Homo sapiens: one gene and its partners. The protein of the gene in region 1 binds, or shares a complex with, the protein of each later gene. Each region holds a gene or a part of one and is shown in the gene's direction. Other genes may lie near its edges.

Region 1 (9,209 bases):
CTTCTTTCGCCGGGTGGTCCTCGAACTACTGGAGCAGGGGTTGGGGGCTGCGGTGGCCTGTTCGGAGGCAGCTCCGGAGTCTTTCTGGGAGGCTGGCCTGCGCTTCTCCCCGCTGACTGGTGCCAGCGGGGAGGACCGGAGAGAACAGGGTGCTAGCAGGGCTTGCACAAATCTGACAGCCCCCACGGCCATGAGGAGCCCCCAGAGCAGGGCGGGGGCCTCCAGGGGAGACAGCTGAGAGCGAGTCCAGTGGAGGGCCTGGGCCAGGGTGCTGTTGGCGCTGCGGGTGCGAGGTGGGCTTTTCTCCTGTGGGAGGGAGGGAGGGAGGGAGGTTGGGGAAGTGCTTACTGGGTTTACCCCGGGAGGCTGGGGTCACCCCTGCCACCTCCCCCAGCCTGGCTGACACCCCCTTACCTGTAGTCCAAACTGCCTGAGCAGCGTCTCCAGCGTGGGGTCCCCCAGGGACACGGATGGGAAGAACTCCTCCACCCACTGGCGCCGCCACCACTGGCTGCAGCAGGACCCGATGTTCAGAAGCTGGAGGCACCCCGGGCTCCATACCCCATCGCCAGTGCCCAGCCTTACCCCTGCTCCTCAGCTCCTCACGCTCCACATCCCCCCCTGGTGCCCGGCCTTACCCCTGCACCCCGGGCTCCACACCCCACCCGGTGCCCGGCCTTACCCCTGCACCCCGGGCTCCACACCCCCCCCAGTGCCCGGCCTTACCCCTGCACCCCAGGCTCCACACCCCACCCCGGTGCCCGGCCTTACCCCTGCACCCCGGGCTCCACACCCCCCCCAGTGCCCGGCCTTACCCCTGCACCCCGGGCTCCACACCCCCCCCCGGTGCCCGGCCTTACCCCTGCACCCCGGGCTCCACACCCCCCGGTGCCCGGCCTTACCCCTGCACCCCGGGCTCCACACCCCACCCGGTGCCCAGCCTTACCCCTGCTCCCCAGGCTGGGAGAACCAGTACTTGTAGCGCTGGGCTCGGACGTAGGTGGGCGGCTGCTTGTGGAAGGGATACCTGGCCACTTGGCTCTGGACAAGGCGGATCACTGCAGCGAGAGGCATCAGCGTGGCCCCCACAGTACCCGCCCTGCCCCTCCCCTCCCCACCCCGCTCCACCCCAGCCCACTCCACACCCCCCAAGCCCGCTCCGCACCTGGCTCCTTGCCCTGCAGCAGGCGCAAGACCAGGCTTGTGAACCACGGGCTGTGCGTGTGTGGGCCCAGGGCTGCAAACCACATCTGCCAGTCCAGGCGTGGCTGGTGGGGCACCACAACCGGGGGCGGCCGGCTCAGGTTCCCAGGCTTGTACATGAACTCGATCTCCTGCCAGGCAGGCCGAGGTCAGCTGGGCCCGCTGACCTGGGCCCCACCACCCTGCCCGCCCTGGGAGGGCTCACCGTCCAGTGGTGGCCGTCGTAACTGCCCTCCAGCACCACCTCAGGCCGTCCACCAAGCCCAGTCATGCGGCGGAAGAGGCCGTAGGAGTTGGCCAGCTGTAGGTGCTCCACGGCACCAAACAGGCGGTGGGCCCCGGTCCAGAGGCGCCCGTGGGTCCCGGGCTCCACGTAGGAGTACGGCACCTGGAGACAGGTGGGAGGTTCTCAGGGCTGCCCTGCCCCCAGCCCATCCCCCAGCCCTGCAGCGCTACCCACCAGGCTAATCAGGAACAAGGCCACGGTCGCAGTGCCCACAAGGGACAGTTGGACTACAGCACTGAGCTTCCGTAGCCAGCCCCGCACCTGGGTCCACCTGTGGGCAAGGACCCAAGGTCGTCAGGCCGGCCCTGCACACCTGTGCCCCCTCCCTGCTTCCTGGGCCATGTACCTCCACAGGGCACTCAGCAGCTCCCAGACCAGGGAGGCCACACCCAGCCACACAGTGGGCAGCGTCAGTGTCTTCAGCCACTGAGAAAACTGGTGGAAGGTGAAAGCTGGTGGAGGAGGGGGGTGTGAGGACTGGTCCGCCCCTGCCCTCTGGCCCCCCCAGGTCGGCACTCACTGGTTCTGGAGTGGATGGTGCGCTGCTGCCAGTCAACCTCCAGGCCAAAGTAGTGCACAGTGCCATAGGCCAGAAGCCCGTAGACGGCTAGTTCCAGCAGCAGCGACAGGGTGGCCAGCAGGGCCTTGGGCCAGGCTGTGGGGCAGGACAGTCATGGGTCAGCAGAGGGTCCCCAGCCAGGGGGCTGGGGTGCAGCTAGAGTGGGAGTCCTGTGGGGGTGTTGGAGGGGAGAACCCCTGGGAGGGCAGGGGGCTGGACAAGTGACACGCACAGGTGGCCGTCTTCTTGCGGCTGCCGTGGCCAGGCTCAGCAGCCAGGTGCTGGTCGTCCAGCAGCGCAGTGGTAAGCACCAGCGTCATCAGGTTGAAGAAGTTGTAGTTGCCGGTGATGATAATCAGGACCTGCAGCAGCACCTGGGGGCGGCCCGCTCTCAGTGCTCCCGGAGACTGACGCCTGGCCCCGTGGCAGGCACCCACCTCCACCCTGCAGGGTGCATCCCTCTGCTACAAGGCCTTCCCAACAGCGGTTGCCAGCTGTCCCCGGGAGCCACGCTGTCCCCAACAGGGCACGCTGAGCAGCGCTGAAGGCCGAGCCCTGTCTGCCTCTCTCTGACAGCTGCGGCCCTCACCCACCTGCGAGTAGAAAGCAGCCAAGCGCAGGCGTCGAATGGGGGCGAAGAACAGGGGCGGCACAGCGATCTCAATTAGGAAGGTGGCCACCACGCTGAGCTTGTGCAGCCAGACCGGCAGGTGGTGTGCGAACCAGGCGGCGGGCGTGGGCAGGCACTGGGTCTCGTAGTGGTAGGTGAGGGCTGCAGGCGAGGGCAGGAGTCAGGGCTGGCCGAGCCCCCAGACTACCCCAGGTCCAGACCGGGCCCCTCACCAGTGAGCCCCCACCACGCAGGGCAGCGGCTGGTCAGCTTGACCACGCCTGAGGCGAACATGAGGCGGAACAGCAGCCATCGCACCAGCCAGAAGGGGAGGTCTTCGTGGGGCAGGGCCCCTGCCTGCCTGCCCTGGGGGGCCTCCTTGCGGTGGGAGGCTGGCCTCAGCGGGGCCACCAGCACGGCCAGGAAGCCAGTCTCTAGCAGCAGGGAGTCCCTATGGGGAGAGCAAATAGCACCAAGAGCCCCTCCCCACACAGCTGCTTCCCTCGGAAAGTCCTCCCAGGAAGGGCAGAGCCCTCCCCCACCCCCTACCCAGCCTCCCACAGCCCCAGGCCCAGCCGTCACTCACCACTGGAAATAAAGGAACACCTGGCCCACCTGCGGAGAGAGGGGCTGTCAGGGAGCGGGTGTGTCTGTGGACTCAGGTAAGGTAGAGGCAGGGGTGGGTGGTGGGGGTTGGAGATAGAGTGAGCTGGTCACAGGTCCCACTTGCCTGGCAGGCTGACAGGTAGGCGGCCCAAAGCAGCAAGTAGATGACAGGGTGGCGCAGTGGGCTCAGCAGCAGGGCTCCCAGGGCCACTAGTGCACCCAGCAGGCTCAGCAGCTCCAGGCCCTGGGCCGTGTCCAGCCCCAGTCTCGGCGCTTCCCACAGCAGCGTCGGGGTCTCCCACAGCTGCTGCCAGCGCCCCTTGCCCTGAGGCCGCAGCGTCCTCCTTGCAGGTAGGATGCCCTCGGGGCCATACAGGCCTGTGGGAGGGCATGTCATGGCCAGGCCCTGGACAGCCCTTGCAGACTAGACTACCTCTGAGTCAGGGCCTGCAGATCCCCCAGCCTAGGTCAGAGCATGCGGATACCTCCATCCCTAGGTCAGAGTCTGCAGTCCCTCCAGAGCCCGTCCCCCAGGTCGGGACCTGTCAAAACCCCGTCCCAGGGCTAGAGGCCTGCTCAACTACCTGAGTCAGGGCCTCCCACCCAGCAGAGCCCACTGCCCTCTTCCAGGTCTCAGCCCGATCTCCTACCTGTCCCACCAGGTCTGGGAGGAAGCCTCTCTCCCACCTCTCTCAGAGTTCTGTCCCCCACCCCAGGTCAGAGTCCAGAGCCTTACGGGAAATGGATCACCGCACACCTTCCTACCCCCACAGCGGCCTGCAGGACACGAACCGCCGCCCCCTACCCCACGCCAAGGCCTGGCCCTCACTCCCAACCCCGGACTGCGTGAGTGCCGGGCACAGAGAAAAGAGGACATAGGGTCCCGCGCCGAGGCTGGGGGTGTCCCACCCTGGGTGCCTTCACCTGGGATTTGCGTGTAGAGGGAAGCGAAAGCAAACATGAAGACGGCCGCCACGCCCTGGAGGAAGAGCTGCCGCGGGAGCCGGGAGCCCGCCATGTCCGCTACGCGGCCCGCTAGAGCAGGGCCCGCCCTCCGCGTCCGCCCGCCCGCGGCAGCCCCAGGCCCCGCCTCCTCACCGCCCCGCCCGCCCAATCCGTGGCAGCCCCAAGCCCCGCCTCCTCGGCCCGCCCGCCCGCCCGCGGCAGTCCCAGGCCCCGCCTCCTCACCGCCCCGCCCGCCCAACCCGTGGCAGCCCCAAGCCCCGCCTCCTCGGCCCGTCCGCCCGCCCGCGGCTGCCCCAGGCCCCGCCTCCTCACCGCCCCGCCCCCCCAACCCGTGGCAGCCCCCAAGCCCCGCCTCCTCGGCCCGCTCGCCCGCGGCAGCTCCAGGCCCCGCCCCACCCCGCCCCGCCCGACCCACGGCGGCCCCAAAAGCCCTCCCGTCCAAACTGGTGGCAGCCCAAAGCTCCGCCCACCCCCCCCTCCCGGAGGCTTCGACCCCGCCCCGCGACTCTTCCGGTGAGCTCCCGCTGCGCGGCGCCGGGGTTCGCCTCTCTGGCTTTTGCCCACGTTACGTCATAGACATGCGCGCGACGCCGCGCCTACGCATTTTCCTGGGCGGGAACAGCAAAATGGCGCCAGAACTAGTGGCGGGCTGAGGACGCCGTACCCCTCGGAAGGCAGCCCTGCGGTCCCTTTGCCGCCCGTTCCCTCCCGGACATGGAGGACGTGGAGGCGCGCTTCGCCCACCTCTTGCAGCCCATCCGCGACCTCACCAAGAACTGGGAGGTGGACGTGGCGGCCCAGCTGGGCGAGTATCTGGAGGAGGTAAGGGCGGCGGGGGAGTGACGCGGGGTGGGCCGGCGGGTGGGGCTGCGGGGCGGGGGCTCCGGGCCCGGGGCTGTGGGCGCCCCACCGTCTCCACGCCTATGGCTATCTGGCGCTCTGGCCGCGCAGGTCCTCGGGCTCCCTGCTTCTTTTCAAACTCCATCTCTGCCTCCCCAAATCATCCCTTGTTGGATTAGCGTGGACCTGTCATTGCAGGTTTCTACCCGTCAGCGAGCCGTGAATGATTGAGTGGGTGGTGACCAGCCGTTTCTCTAACGTAGTGGAATAGACTAGAAAGCATTATTGCTTTTATTGCAGTTATTGCGAGCATGCTTGTGTGTTTGAGAGGTCTGGATCACGATGTCAGAGGAATTTTTTATCTTGGATTTTCAAACCAATTTCAAGCTATTGCCATGCTCTATCCTGTTAGCGATTAGTGTTTCTTCCATGTTTGACAGCCCTGTCTAGACCTGTGTTAAGCTGTCTGCTCCATATTTGCGCTTCATTTTTACTCCTCAGCCCAGCTCAGTCTGGCGTCCACGACACTTAAATGTTTCTTGTCTTGATCAGCAGTGATCTCCATTCTACCAAATCCAAGGGACATAAGTCAGCATTTGTTGGACTGGCCACTCCTTTCTTTTTGAAACATGGTGGTAGGATTTTTTTTCCCTATTTCATTGCCTGATTTTTCTTTTCTATCCAGTCTCTAAGTGTTGAGTTCCTCAGGATGGGGCCTAGGTCATCTTCTGATGCATTTACCCTGAAGTGTCATTTATTTCTATGATTTTAAATATTGCCTGTATTAGGACAACTACCAGATCTGCAGCTCCATCCTAGATCTTTCCTCCAAATCTACTTTACATATCCAGCTGCTCTCTTGACATCTAGTGGGTGTCACGCAAACATCTCATTTAACATATTTAAAGTGGAACTCTTCATTTTTCTGCTTAAACCCCAGCTTTTCCCATCTCGGAAAATGACACCGCTGTTCAACCAAAAGCAAAAGCTAAATGTGGCTATAGTGAAGCCCCATGCTTAACACTCAGTTCATCCATGAATTCCATCAGTTATACCACCGGAATATCACTTGAATTCATCTGTTGTCCATTTTATTTGGTCTAGGCCACCATTGTCTCTGGCCTGGATTTGTGTAAAACCTTCCTATTTGGGTTCCCTTATCCCTGTTTTTGTCCCGTCCAATTCGTGCTCCAACCAGCAGCAAGTGTGACTCTTAAAAATTAAAATCTGGCCACAGCACTGTTTTCTGCCTAAAATCAACCCCTCAGTGGCTTTCCATTATGCCCAGAATAAAACCCAAATTTCCTTCTCTGAACCTGGCTCTGCTCTCCATTTTAGCCTCATTTTGGGCTGTTTTGTATCTTGTTCTTTTGAACCAGTCAACCTATGGCCCCTCCAAGCTTTTTCTTGGTGGAAGATCTTCATGCTTTCTGCCCCCACTTGGGAATCTTCTTTTTTGTTTTTATTTATTTATTTATATATTTTGAGACGGAGTCTCACTCTGAGACGGAAGTGCAGTGGCGCGATCTGAGCTCACTGCAAGCTCCGCCTCCTGGGTTCACATCATTCTGCCTCAGCCTCTGCAGTAGCTGGGACTACAGGCGCCCGCCTCCACGCCCAACTAATTTTTTTGTATTTTAGTAGAGACAGGGTTTCACCGTGTTAGCCAGGATGGTCTCGATCTCCTGACCTCGTGATCCGCCTGCCTTGGCCTCCCAAAGTGCTGGGATTACAGGCGTGAGCCACCGCGCCCGGCCTCTTTTTTGTTTTTAAATAAAGAGGGACTTCATATGGCAAGGAAAAGGAGAAAAAAAAAATCAGAGAGGAGGATCTTACTGTGTTGCCCAGGCTGGTCTCAAACTGCTGTGCTCAAGCAGTCCTCCTGCCTCAGCTTCTCAGGTAGCTGGGACTATAGCTGTGCACCACCACACCTGGCTGGGAATATTCTTTCAATGACTGAGTTTGTTTTCTTTTCTTTTTTTGAGATGGAGTCTTGCTCTGTTGCCCGGGCTGGAGTACAATGGCAGAATCTTGGCTCACTGCAACCTCCGACTCCCAGGTTCAAGCAATTCTCCTGCCTTGGCCTCCCGAGTAGCTGGGATTACAGGCATGCACCACCACGTCCAGTTAATTTTTGTATTTTTAGTAGAGATGGGTTTCGCCACATTGGCCAGGCTGGTCTCAAACTCCTGACCTCAGGTGATCCAGCCAGCTCTGCCTCTTTCCAAAGTGCTGGGATTACAGACGTGAGCCACCACGCCTGGCTGACTGAGTCCTTTTCATTCTTAAGGTCTTAGTGTAAATGTCAGCTGACCACCCTATCTAAAATAGTCCTCTCCATCTCAGCACCTTACACACTTTAGAATGTTTATCATAAACCATTTAAATTTTTTTTTTTTTTGAGATGGAGTCTTACTCTGTCGCCCAGGCTGGAGTGCAGTGGCATGATCTCAGCTCACTGCAAGCTCTGCCTTCTGGGTTCACGCCATTTTCCTGCCTCAGCTTCCCGAGTAGCTGGGACTACAGGCACCTGCCACCACACCCGGCTAATGTTTTGTATTTTTAGTAGAGACGGGGTTTTACCGTGTTAGCCAGGATGGTCTCGATCTCCTGACCTGGTGATCCGCCCGTGTCGGTGTCCCAAAGTGCTGGGATTACAGGCATGAGCCACCGCGCCCAGCCAAAAAAAATTTTATTTATTTATATGTTTTTTTTTTGAGATGGAGTCTCACTCTGTCACCCAGGCTGGAGTGCAGTGGTGCAATCTCAGCTTGCTGCAGCCTCCACCTTCTGGGTTCAAGCAGTTCTCCTGCCTCAGCCTCTTTTTTTTTTTTTTTTTTTTTTGAGACGGAGTCTCACTCTGTCGCCCAGGCTGGAGTGCAGTGGTGCAATCTCGGCTCACTGCAAGCTCCACCTCCTGGGTTCACACCATTCTCCTGCCTCAGCCTCCCGAGTAGCTGGGACTACTGGCACCCGCCACCACGCCCGGCTAATTTTTTGTATTTTTTTAGTAGAGACGGGGTTTCACCGTGTTAGCCAGGATGGTCTCGATCTCCTGACCTCATGATCCACCCGCCTCGGCCTCCCAAAGTGCTGGGATTACAGGCCTGAGCCACCGCGTCCGATCCTGCCTCAGCCTCTTGAGTAGCCGGGATTACAGGCGCCTGCCACCACGCCTGGCTAATTTTTTTTTTTTTCTTGAGACAGAGTCTTGCCCTGTGGCCCAAGTTGGAGTGCAGTGGCACAATCTCGGCTCACTGCAAGCTCCATCTCCTGGGTTCGCGCCATTCTCCTACTTCAGCCTCCTCAGTAGCTGGGATTACAGGCGCCCGCCACCACGCCTGGCTAATTTTTTTGTATTTTTCAGTAGAGACAGGGTTTCACCATGTTAGCCAGGATGGTCTTGGTCTCCTGACCTCGTGATCCACCCGCCTCGGCCTCCCAAAATGCTGGGATTACAGGTGTGAGCCACCGTGCCTGGCCCCAGCTAATTTTTGTATTTTTAGTAGAGATGGGGTTTCACCATGTTGGCCAGGCTGGTCTTGAACTCTTGACCTCGTGATCCGCCCACCTCATCCTTTGAAAGTGCTGGGATTGCAGGTGTGAGCCACTGCGACTGGCCACAAGCCATTCTTCAACTCATTTACCTGTTTGTGGCCTGTCTCCACCCTAGAATGTGAATTCTGCCAGGGCAGGGACCATACTTATGCCCTCTTTTGTCTGCTTAGTAGAGTGCCTGGCACATAGGTGTGGACGTTAAAGTGTTTGTTAAATGCACATGTGATCTGATGACCAAACTTCTCTGCTCTCATGCATAGTTGGCTGAGAAAATACGGGGAACTGTGCTGGGCAGAGCTCCTGTGGATTCAGGTTTTCACATCAAGCAGGGTCCATGAGGACACCTGTTCACTTGGTAAATCTCCTTCCTGGCTTGGTCAGCTCCCTTCCTGCTTTCTTATGTCTGCTCTTCCAAACCTCTGCAGCTTGAAGTCCTGATTTCCTGGTTTCTAGTATTATCTTTTTCCTTCTGTCATTTTCCACACACTACCATGATGTTCTTTTTCTTTTTTTTGTCCTTTGTTTTTTTTTTTTTGTTTTTTTTTTTTAGATAGGTTCTTGCCCTGTTGCCCAGGCTAGAG
Region 2 (7,237 bases), on another chromosome or scaffold:
GCATATATATAGTCACTCTTTTCCCACCTAAAAAGAATTTCTCTTTGCAACAACCACTTCCTCACTGTTAGCCCATGTGGCATGAGGCCCAGACTTAAGCCAATTAGAGCATTCCATTCCCTTTGCACAGACTGTTTCACAGGTGGCCCAGGACTTTTATTCAAATCAATGCTGGGGAAGAGAAACTCTCATTCCCCCTTGGATTTTAATTTTAGAAGATATGAGGCTGGAGTTGCTGTAGCTATCTTACCACAGCAAGGGGAGAGCCAAAAGGTGCTAGAGGCCATCATACGGAACCTGAAAATACTGCCAACACAATGGAGTTCAAAGCAAGGAAAGAAACCAAATCCTTGTGTCTTTGTCTGAACCCTTAATCCAGTTATAGTCACCTGACTTTTTAGTTCCAGGAGACAATATTTGTTTTTTCTCAAGACAATTTGGATTGGGTTTTCTGTCACTTGTAATCAACAGGCTCCTATCCTAGATATTACTGTAATTATTTCTTCTTCTTACATTCTAAAAATGAACATTTCCTTAATATCCTTGGTCTGGTGCTAGCTTCTCTCCACTTACAATCTTAAAAACCTAACCTATTTTTAGTGATCCAGTTATTCTTACAGCACTACCCATTTTATTTTCTCTCTTAAGCCATACTCTCTACCTCTACTGCTTGTTGAATATATCTTTCCAGAATTCCAACCTACGGAATAAAAACATACTTATCTTTCAAAATGATATTTCCAAAAAAGAGCTGTTCTGCCTTCTAGCTTCCTGGGTTTTCGGTGATAAGTTATGTGTGTTTCGGTAACATTAATATACCAAGGTGCTTATATTATCAAGAGGAATATTCACTTCTATCTGCACTGTGTCTATATCTAATTTATTAATCTTGAACAATATTCTCTAAATATTTATACAATACTTACATAAATTCATATTAGTTAATATCTAATTTATCTAAATATTTACAATTACAAATTTAATCTTTTAAAATATTTACTCAGAAATCTAATTTCAGCCTTTCTGAAATGTTATGACATTAGAAGGCAAACAAAACACATATTGTTAAAATGATGAAAAAACCTTGCACTTAAAGAACTGAAAATGAAGATTTTAATTCTAATTCCAATTTTTCTCTTTGAACTTATTTCTTCCTGTGGGGTATAATTTTTTTCTAATGTAAAAAGTGAGGTTTTCCTTCTAAGACTGCCTGAAATTGCAGATAGAGATTACTGACAGATCATTTTAGACTAGGAAGATAAGACCCAGTTATAGCAATACTTTCCAAAATGACTGTAACCCAGTCTTTTCCAGGTAGGCCAGCTTCTCTTTGTAATTAAACTCTGTTAATTTCATGAGACATGTCCAAAATATTGGCAACAATCAACCAAAAGTCTTTATTTCTTGTGACTCTAATATCTTCTCAAAATTTATACTTATTCTGAATGTCTTATTTTTGTGGTATATATAAATCTCCAGATTTAAGTCTACTCTGTAGCTGTTTGTTATGTTTTCTCATTATACAACCTGGTTTATGCCCCTTTTCAAAATAGTTTTCTGAGTGGGCAATGGTTAGGTTCAATTAAATTTAAGGCCATCAGTCAGTTGATTTATCAAAACTATATTTTCTGTGACTTATCGTTCTTCCTATACCTTATCACTAATTCAAGGATACACAAAGAATAGTATATGACTGACTTCAAGGGTTTATACTCTGAACCATCACAATCTACAAAAGCTATAGATTTTTACCCCAAAATGACTCCAGATTTTTTTCCATCCTACTTAGGCACTTCTCACTTACTGTTATATAGTAACAATCTTAACTAAAGCCTAGACTGATCTCAGTTTCTTTCCCCTTTAACATACCCCACATAACTACTGTTAATTATTCTTCCTATATTTACCAAGTCATTCCTTGGCTCAGAATTGTTCTAAAAGCTGTTTCCTCCATATCATATCTAACATCCTTGACTTGGTTTTCAAGATCCTTCAGGAGCTACCCTTCCTCTAACTTGATATCCCATTATTCATCCTTAGCATACTTTGATAAGTTCAATGTCATAAACACAGCAAAATCAAATCCTTATGGAGCATGTGCTAGATGAACAATCATAAACAGTATGATGAGACAGGTATTATATGCTAGTTTCATAAATAAATACTCTCAAGATTGACAAACTGAGGAAACTGTCAAGCATATACCTAAAAAATGATGGAACTTGGGATTCTGTTTTCTATATTACATCTTTCCACTACATTGTGCTCTGTTGCCCCAAATACACCACTCAATTTGGTCTATACTTTTTTTTTTTTTTTTTTTTTTGAGACGCAGTTTCGCTCTTGTTGCCCAGGCTGTAGTGCAACGGCACTATCTCGGCTCACCGCAACCTCCGCCTCCCGGGTTCAAGAGATTCTCCTGTCTCAGCCTCCCTAGTAGCTGGGATTACAGGCATGCGCCACCATGCCCTGCTAATTTTTTATTTTTAGTAGAGACGGGGTTTGTCCATGTTGGTCAGGCTGGTCTCGAACTCCCAACCTCAGGTGATCCGCATAGTTGATACCTCCCCAACTCAGGTTTTGTAGTGTTTTACAACCTTTGGAAATGCAAAAATTCCAGAAGCCCTCAAAGATAATCCTTATATCTTCTTGGTATGCTTACCAGCCAAAAAACTTTTTTTCATTAAGGTTTATTTTCTGTAGCTTGTTTTATGAAAACAACAATTCGTTTTTAACTTCAAACATAAAGATATATCACGATATTGAGTCTACGCTTATGCAATACACACCAGTCTCCCAACCTCACCAAATTCTTACAATTGGTTGGGAGGGGGGTGGCTCTCCACACCTTTTTGAGAATCACTGAACCTGACTTCATGCTCTTCCAGGGAAGAACCATAATGTATTTAGAGTGATCATGTAAATTCATTCAAAAGGGAGATTTAATGGTGATTTAACATGCCAGACCCTAAGTAAGCAAAAGTTAAAGAAAAAAAAAGGAGGCTAGTAGTTCTCAATGTCAAGTACTTAAGAGTTGTTGCATGAATACTGGAGATAGTCAAATGAGCCAGTGGCTCTTTAACAATATAGGGAATTAGGAGCAAGTATGAGATTCTGATTATAAAGTTGTAGGAAAACTAACTTCCCAGAAAAATGCACATAGAATTATGTATACAATGTCAGGCGAGTTATGAACTCTGAAGCCCAATCACCTACCACCAGATCCACAGACCTCAGGTTAAAAACCCACTAAAACTAAGTTCTCGGGGAACAGGAATCGCCAAACTTGCTTACTAATTCTAATTATGCCTTACCCAGGGCAATGTATACAAACACTACTTAGGGAATATTTGCTGATCGATAATTTCCTCATAAAAATAACCATAACACTGGCGAGTCGTTTTTTCCACTAAAGAGCCTTTTAGTCAAATTATTTTAAAAGTCCTAAACCTTTCACTAGTAACACCAATGATCTCGAAAATCATTATTGCGCTATTCACATGTCGACTAAGCTATCACGAATCCAGGTCTTCCAGTTGTCTCTCTACTCCCTTAAAATTTAGGGCTTCCTCCTTCGCATCCCAAAAGCTACACCCGGAGCCCCGCTGCCGCCAGGGAGACAGAAAATGATGCTCCACGAAGCACACAGCTTCAAAACAGGAAAGATGGGATCCAGTGATGGCTACAACTTCCAAACCCTTTTCTCACCAGGTCCAGAGGTGAAGGGATTTACCTCAAGTTCCAGGAAAGCGGTGGCGATTGCTCTCAAATACCTGGTACCTCCCCGTCACCATAGTGACTTCTAAGAGTTACGCTCCCTTCCTCTTCCCGCGATACTTCTACGCGGCACGTCATCCGAGTGGGCCCGAGACCCCGCCTCTCGGCGAGCCCGCCCTCTTCTGAAGAGGCGTTTCTGGACCACTGAGCCCCGCCTCCCACTGTGAGCGGAACCCTACCGTTTTTAAAAAAATCTTTTTCAAAACTTGCCAGGTTGTCTTTCCAAATATTTTTAATAATAGTGCTGCTGCTGTAGACCACAGAGAAAAGAATCCCTCGCTCTTCCTTTTCACTTAGTAGAAACTTCTACCGCGTAGGTCCCGCCAGGAGTTCGCGCATGCGCAGGAGCGACAATAAGATGGCGGTGATAATCGCCGCACTTTTTTTCAAATTAGTGGATCCCAGAAATCATTGCGCGCATTTGTAACGAATTTCCGTTCGAGTTTGTATTTTAGGCGCCATTTTCGAGTGAAGGACCCGGAGCCGAAACACCGGTAGGAGCGGGGAGGTGGGTACTACACAACCGTCTCCAGCCTTGGTCTGAGTGGACTGTCCTGCAGGTAAAGTACTTCTCTTCCTGGTCAGGTTGTCACGCTCTTACTTCCTGCCTTGTCCGCGAGCGCCTGGAAAATAGAGGCCTTGAGCCCGAGCGGCGAAGTCCGGGCTTGAAGCTGCCGCTGGGAGATTTCTCTTGCTGTCACCCCTCCCCCCTCGGCCGCTCCCCGGCGGCCCGGGCTCCCGCGCGCAGCTCCCGGGCGCCACTTTTCCAAGCTACTCAAATGTCTCGGGGAGGCCCTGAGCCTCGCAGATCTTTTCTTTAAAAAATCCTAGTCTCTATCTGGAAAAGGGCGTCTCCCCCTACCCCTCTTCCTTCTGCCAACGGACTAGTCACCGGGTCTCAGCCTTCGCTGGTGACCTTTCATGGTTTACTGTCCAACGGGACTCCGCCTGGGGAGCTGGAGAGACAAACTCTTGCCACTCCAAAATTAGCAAGCGCTGCCAGCGTCCGACTTGAAGTTGCTAGTGGTTAGTCCCAGCCTTCGCCCTTCGCGGTCCGACCGCTGAGAGGAGGGAGACTTCGTTATGCCCCGGGCCGTCAACGGCGCCAGGAGCTAAAGGGCGGGCAGACGAAAGCGGGCGGCGAGTCGCCAGTTAGTCTTCACCGCTCTGGAGAGAGTTGCTAGCCACGGGATCCTGACCCGGACACGAACTCGTTTCTCCACGTCGGTGCGCGCTTGCATCCCTGGCCCCGAAAGCGTGGGAATGTCCGGAAATGCTGGCGTATGGGAGTTCCTTAATTAGAAATGCGTTAGCGAATATTATACGCTTATACTATGGGCGGACGGGTGGAGAGCCTTAAAAACAACAACAACAAACTAAGCAGTTGCTCAATCGTTGATTGATCCTCAGGCACGTCTAGATTTTCCCACTTACATAGGTCTTGTTAAGAAACCAGTCCTGCCTTCTTGCCACTCGTGTCTTTCGATGGCTCCCTTCCCGAAGTCCCGCTGCCTCTAAGCGGAGTGTTAAGCGGGGCTCTCGGAAGCCGGTGGACCGAGATTTCCCCGGGTGGGGCGGGCGCGGTGTAGCGGCCCGCGGGCTGACTTGCTCCCGGCTGTCCCCCGGCCCCAGCGACCATGCCCCGTAAAGGCACCCAGCCCTCCACTGCCCGGCGCAGAGAGGAAGGGCCGCCGCCGCCGTCCCCTGACGGCGCCAGCAGCGACGCGGAGCCTGAGCCGCCGTCCGGCCGCACGGAGAGCCCAGCCACCGCCGCAGGTGAGTGACCCGCCGCGACTCGGCGGGAACGCGCGCTGTGGGACTGGCAGGCAAACGCGCCCAGCCCGAGGCTGGCTGGGGTTGTTGAGCGCGGAGTTGACATCTGAAGGTCCGGTGTCGGTCCGGTAGAGGCTCAGGAAAGCCATTTGGCAACTTTGAGATAGGATTCCCGTGCAATTTTGGTGTAACGGCGCTGGAAGGGATGGGGGCGAGCAAACGGGTTCAGTTGTGAATTTTTGTTTGTGACCTGTGGAATGGTACAGGTCACAAACAAAAATTCAATATCTTTATTGTATTCCCGCTAAAATCGAGACGGTCAATCAAGAGAGCAAGTGGACTTTTTTCCCAGAGACAATCAATATGACTATGTGAGCATGATGAAAAGTTTTTTGACCCTAACCTCACCTCCGTGGTGTTAGATTGCCGTTAAAGAGAAGACGATAATTTATTTGAAGCCACTGTAGCTTTTGTGAGTCCAGGAGTTGGGTGACATTATTAAACCCTCGTGGCAGTGTCGCTGAAGTTCATGAGTTTCCAAAATGAAGGTTCCAGGTGCTCAGCGGTACGGAGAATTGCATCTAGAGCCTTAGGATTTAACCTCCTGTTTAGGATAGGCAGCAGGAAATAGCTTGTTACGGTTTTCCCAGATTTGCTCTATGATGTAGTGTTTTGACTCTTAAGAGGTATAGGTGTATAGAATTTTGTGACCGGTGGCATTTCTTTCAAGAATTTCTTTTTTAGTAAAACCAAGCTGAAGGTTTAGTCACCCCCGTGAGTTTAAGATAATAACATATTTAAGTGGAAAATATAGACTCCTAAGTTTCATAAATAACATCCCTCCATCCCCTACTTTAAAGATGGGCAGTCATTAGTTCTCCGAACTAATTGCACTAATGTAGGCTTTTCCCCCGCCGTTTGCCTTCGTTTTCCTTTCCTTTCACTGACTTAGAGACTGCAAGTGAGGAACTTGATAATAGAAGTTTAGAAGAGATTTTGAACAGCATTCCTCCTCCCCCGCCTCCAGCAATGACCAATGAAGCTGGAGCTCCTCGGCTTATGATAACTCATATTGTAAACCAGAACTTCAAATCCTATGCTGGGGAGAAAATTCTGGGACCTTTCCATAAGGTATTTGTATGGAAATAACTATTTTATAACTTTTTAAATAACTATTGTAAGGTAATACGTTTTTACAAGATGTTTCAGTTTTGTAACTATCCTAAAATTCATTCACTCCCTATTTATCCTGATAGTCTTTCTGTCTCTCTCTCTCACACACACACACACACGTTTCATATGATTTTAACACTGAAATTATCTTTTGTTTATCTGGTTATCTTTGGTACCTCTAGTTACAAAGTTTTCCATTGAATGGAGTCGGTGTGTGTTTCTGTTTGAAAGAGTATTTTCCCTTGGATAATTTTTTTTTCTTAAAGCCTTCTATGGAACCCTTAGATAATTTAACTATAAAATGAGTTTTCTAAAACGTCTGCGTTAGAATTGGAGCATTCTTATTGAATGTTGAAGCTTTTAAGAGAGAACTTGATGTAAGAAAACTCAAGTCGTATGCCTGTGATTAGCAATGAGAACTTTTAAATACTTGCAGTTTTTAACTGCAAGTAAAAAAATCTAACAGTTTCAGTTAAAATCAGTAGTATTAGCATGACCTTATGAACTTTTCCGT
Region 3 (2,611 bases), on another chromosome or scaffold:
AGTTTAAACTACAAAGTTATTTCTTCATCTTGACCTGTTTTTTTAAATGTAAACTTTTAAGGACTTGAGATAACTAATTTGTTTATATACAAAAATTAATGTTACTGTGTTACTTAACCCATGTTTTCTCTTTATATAATCACTTATCGCTTACAAATGAGCATATATTCCTCATCTCTTAACTAGTCTAATTATGGTCCAATTATTGTGGTTGTGATTTTATGCATATCATCAAATGTTTTTTTCTTATGCGGGTCTTTTATATATTAGGGATCCTGAGATACCCGATTCTATATGTAAAAGCTAATATACAAAAAAGCAGATTAAATTACATGATAAATGTAGCTGATCATCAGTGTTTAATTGATTTAATTCCTAAGGCAATATTAATGTGTTTTCTAAAGTCATTCAGGTAAGGAAGAATTATAAATCAGGTAACTGGACCAACAAAGGGAACACATATAAAGCTATTATGCATGCATGGAGCCGTTTGAGGCTAGTTTTTTAAGGCCACAACTCCAGACCCCTGATTTAGACTGAGATAGGAAACAGATCTTGAAAGAATCCTTATTTTAATGATACATGAATATCATGTTCCTATACGCTTAATAATTGGTCTCTACGTTTTAATGATACATGAATATCATGTTCCTATACGCTTAATAATTGGTCTCTACGACTTTAATGTTTTTGTTTTTTTAAGCTGTGTAAGTATTTTTAAATCAAAGCTTAGGAGGTGTGTTGCGTGGTACTATCTGCTGCAAATTTATCTGAAGTTTGTTAATATTTTCCAAGATTTTTGTCAGCCTTTTCATAATCCAGTCATTAACAACCTATTGGTAAACAAGAATGTAGGTGCCAGTAGACTAAACCAAATTTATTTTTCCCTGAGTCTGATATATATATGTATAAATATAAATAACTCAATCCATCTGTTCCACCAAAATAACTCAAAAGTTGGATGATTATTTGTCTTCCGCTTTCCAGTTCAAAGGGATGAAATTCCTTTAGAACTTGAAAGATGACACTAGCGAACACCATGAGAATACTGTCTACAGTTTTTGGTACGTCATCACTAGAACAGTGACCCCAAACTGAATCATGAAAGGTCTGACATGATGTAATCTGATCTTCCATGTGTTATTTTGGCCCCACATCTCTTCTTGATTTTTTAGTCTTATTTCCTTAGTGTTATTATCATACTTCCCCTGATATATGGCCGTACTTCCTGGCCCTGGGCTTGACATTTCCCACCCTTCATTCTCCATACATATGAGATGTCAGAAAACATGCAGTAATTGATATTATGGGACACATTGGAAAGGATTGAATCTGGAATTAGTTCTGTCCACTGTGGAGGGGAGAGGAAATAATGCTGTAAATGTTGAGTTACAGAAAGTCCAATGTCAAATATAGTTTTTTTGTTTCCTTTCAAATGTATTACAGACTGTGCCAAAACAGTTACCAATTCACACTGTCAATATTAAAGTATACCATAGTATACAAATTAGTCAGTACTTGCTGTTAATTTTAATATTTCTGATTTAACAGTTAGTTATTAAGTGGTACTTCATTGCTGTTTTAGCCAACGTTTTAAAAATAATTTGGGAGTTTGACTATTTTGGCTTACGTACTCATTTCCTTTTCTCTGCTAAAAATGTTTTGCTTGTGTGCGTTCCTGATTTTTGTCTTGTATAATCTTGATCTTTGAAAACCCTCAAACATGTATTAAATTGTTGTAACTTTTTTTCATTAGAGGGAAGACATTAAGGGGATTGGGGACATTTGTTTCACACATCTGCAGTAATATGAGTTAACTAATATTTAACAAGCTCTTTCTTTACATTAGCTGCTGTTCTCATTTGTATGTATTGTCATATTTAATCCTCAGAGTAACCTAGTGAGGTAAATACTGTTGTTGTCAGCATGGTGTAATCGAGGAATTGAGTGAGTTGAGCAGAAAAGTTAGGAAACTTGCTCAGGGTGATAATACAGTTAGGAGTGTCAGGGCCCATGGACAAATCTTGTCAGTCTCCAGAACCTAAGATATACTACGTCACTGACAGCTTGAACATTTGTATTTATTGTACAGAATAAATTTAAGAAAAATACCTGTATGAGCAGTATGTACAACGTGAATGTTACCTTAAAGAAGAACCTCAACCATGTGAAGAGAGGATTCATTGTGGTGGTGGCGGTTTTGGCATTTCAAGTAAGCTCACAGCAAATGCAAAGCAAAGACATGAAATTTTCTCTTCCAATAGGGTGGCATAATCTAAAGGCCAACATTCCCACAGATGATAAATATAGATTCTGAGCAAAATACTAGAAACAACTACCTGAGAGTTCAGGAAACTGAAGAAAAACTAGAAAGATTTTGGATGGGAGATAAAATACGGAGGAAGAGACAGGCACAAGCTAAGGTTAATGTTTTTAACCTAAGTACCAGCTATAGTCATGATGCAGCTGTAGGACAGCTAAGGCTGCAGTGGAAAGCCTGGGGTCTTTCTGGTCTGGAGAACTAAAAGATGGGATCTGGGCTAACCACAGCTTCCAGAAAGTGAAGGAGACGTCTCAGAAGGGATAAACGAGGACCTGGAGAAAGAGGTCC

What was found. The genes of interacting proteins can lie anywhere in the genome.
Region 2: the proteins of NCAPH2 (region 1) and SMC4 are in contact, whole or in part, in a cryo-EM structure (PDB 9F5W), measured with the Homo sapiens proteins. Residues at the interface, in NP_689512.2 of Homo sapiens: Arg494, Ile495, Trp498, Glu499, Thr501, Val502, Leu505, Leu506, Gln509, Glu510, His512, Phe547, Cys550, Arg551, Met553, Leu554, Leu557, Gln558, Ala560, Asn561, Tyr563, Val565, Glu566, Ile567, Gln569, Leu573, Glu574, Ala576, Val577, Asp578; in NP_001002800.1 of Homo sapiens: Ile100 (codon at 6,661), Leu101 (codon at 6,664), Gly102 (codon at 6,667), Pro103 (codon at 6,670), Ile112, Gly113, Pro114, Ser117, Gln1151, Met1152, Leu1155, Phe1227, Lys1228, Ser1231, Ile1232, Phe1235, Tyr1236, Glu1239, Gln1240, Asn1253, Asn1254, Phe1256, Glu1257, Arg1261, Gly1264, Ile1265, Tyr1266, Lys1267, Thr1268, Tyr1269.
Region 3: the proteins of NCAPH2 (region 1) and SMC2 are in contact, whole or in part, in a cryo-EM structure (PDB 9F5W), measured with the Homo sapiens proteins. Residues at the interface, in NP_689512.2 of Homo sapiens: Glu46, Phe53, Ile54, Glu55, Leu58, Leu59, Gly62, Ser63, Ala64, Cys65, Val66, Lys69, Tyr73; in NP_001036015.1 of Homo sapiens: Leu93, Thr125, Gln128, Asp129, Cys132, Gly135, Leu136, Asn137, Met173, Tyr174, Lys177, Lys178.

Annotation. Positions count from the first base shown.
Region 1 is NC_000022.11:50,503,394-50,512,602, forward strand, and holds the start of NCAPH2 (condensin-2 complex subunit H2), read left to right. Parts: upstream 1-4,830; 5' UTR 4,831-4,944; coding exon 4,945-5,052; intron 5,053-9,209. Other genes in the region: LMF2 (lipase maturation factor 2), read right to left, coding at 1-306, 415-511, 947-1,058, 1,166-1,334, 1,409-1,591, 1,664-1,760, 1,836-1,941, 2,010-2,144 and 6 more. UniProt on the Homo sapiens protein: Regulatory subunit of the condensin-2 complex, a complex that seems to provide chromosomes with an additional level of organization and rigidity and in establishing mitotic chromosome architecture.
Region 2 is NC_000003.12:160,395,413-160,402,649, forward strand, and holds the start of SMC4 (structural maintenance of chromosomes protein 4), read left to right. Parts: upstream 1-4,237; 5' UTR 4,238-4,337; intron 4,338-5,146; exon of another isoform or gene 5,147-5,409; 5' UTR 5,410-5,414; coding exon 5,415-5,553; intron 5,554-6,502; coding exon 6,503-6,681; intron 6,682-7,237. UniProt on the Homo sapiens protein: Central component of the condensin complex, a complex required for conversion of interphase chromatin into mitotic-like condense chromosomes.
Region 3 is NC_000009.12:104,139,309-104,141,919, forward strand, and holds the end of SMC2 (structural maintenance of chromosomes protein 2), read left to right. Parts: coding exon 1-7; 3' UTR 8-2,111; downstream 2,112-2,611. UniProt on the Homo sapiens protein: Central component of the condensin complex, a complex required for conversion of interphase chromatin into mitotic-like condense chromosomes.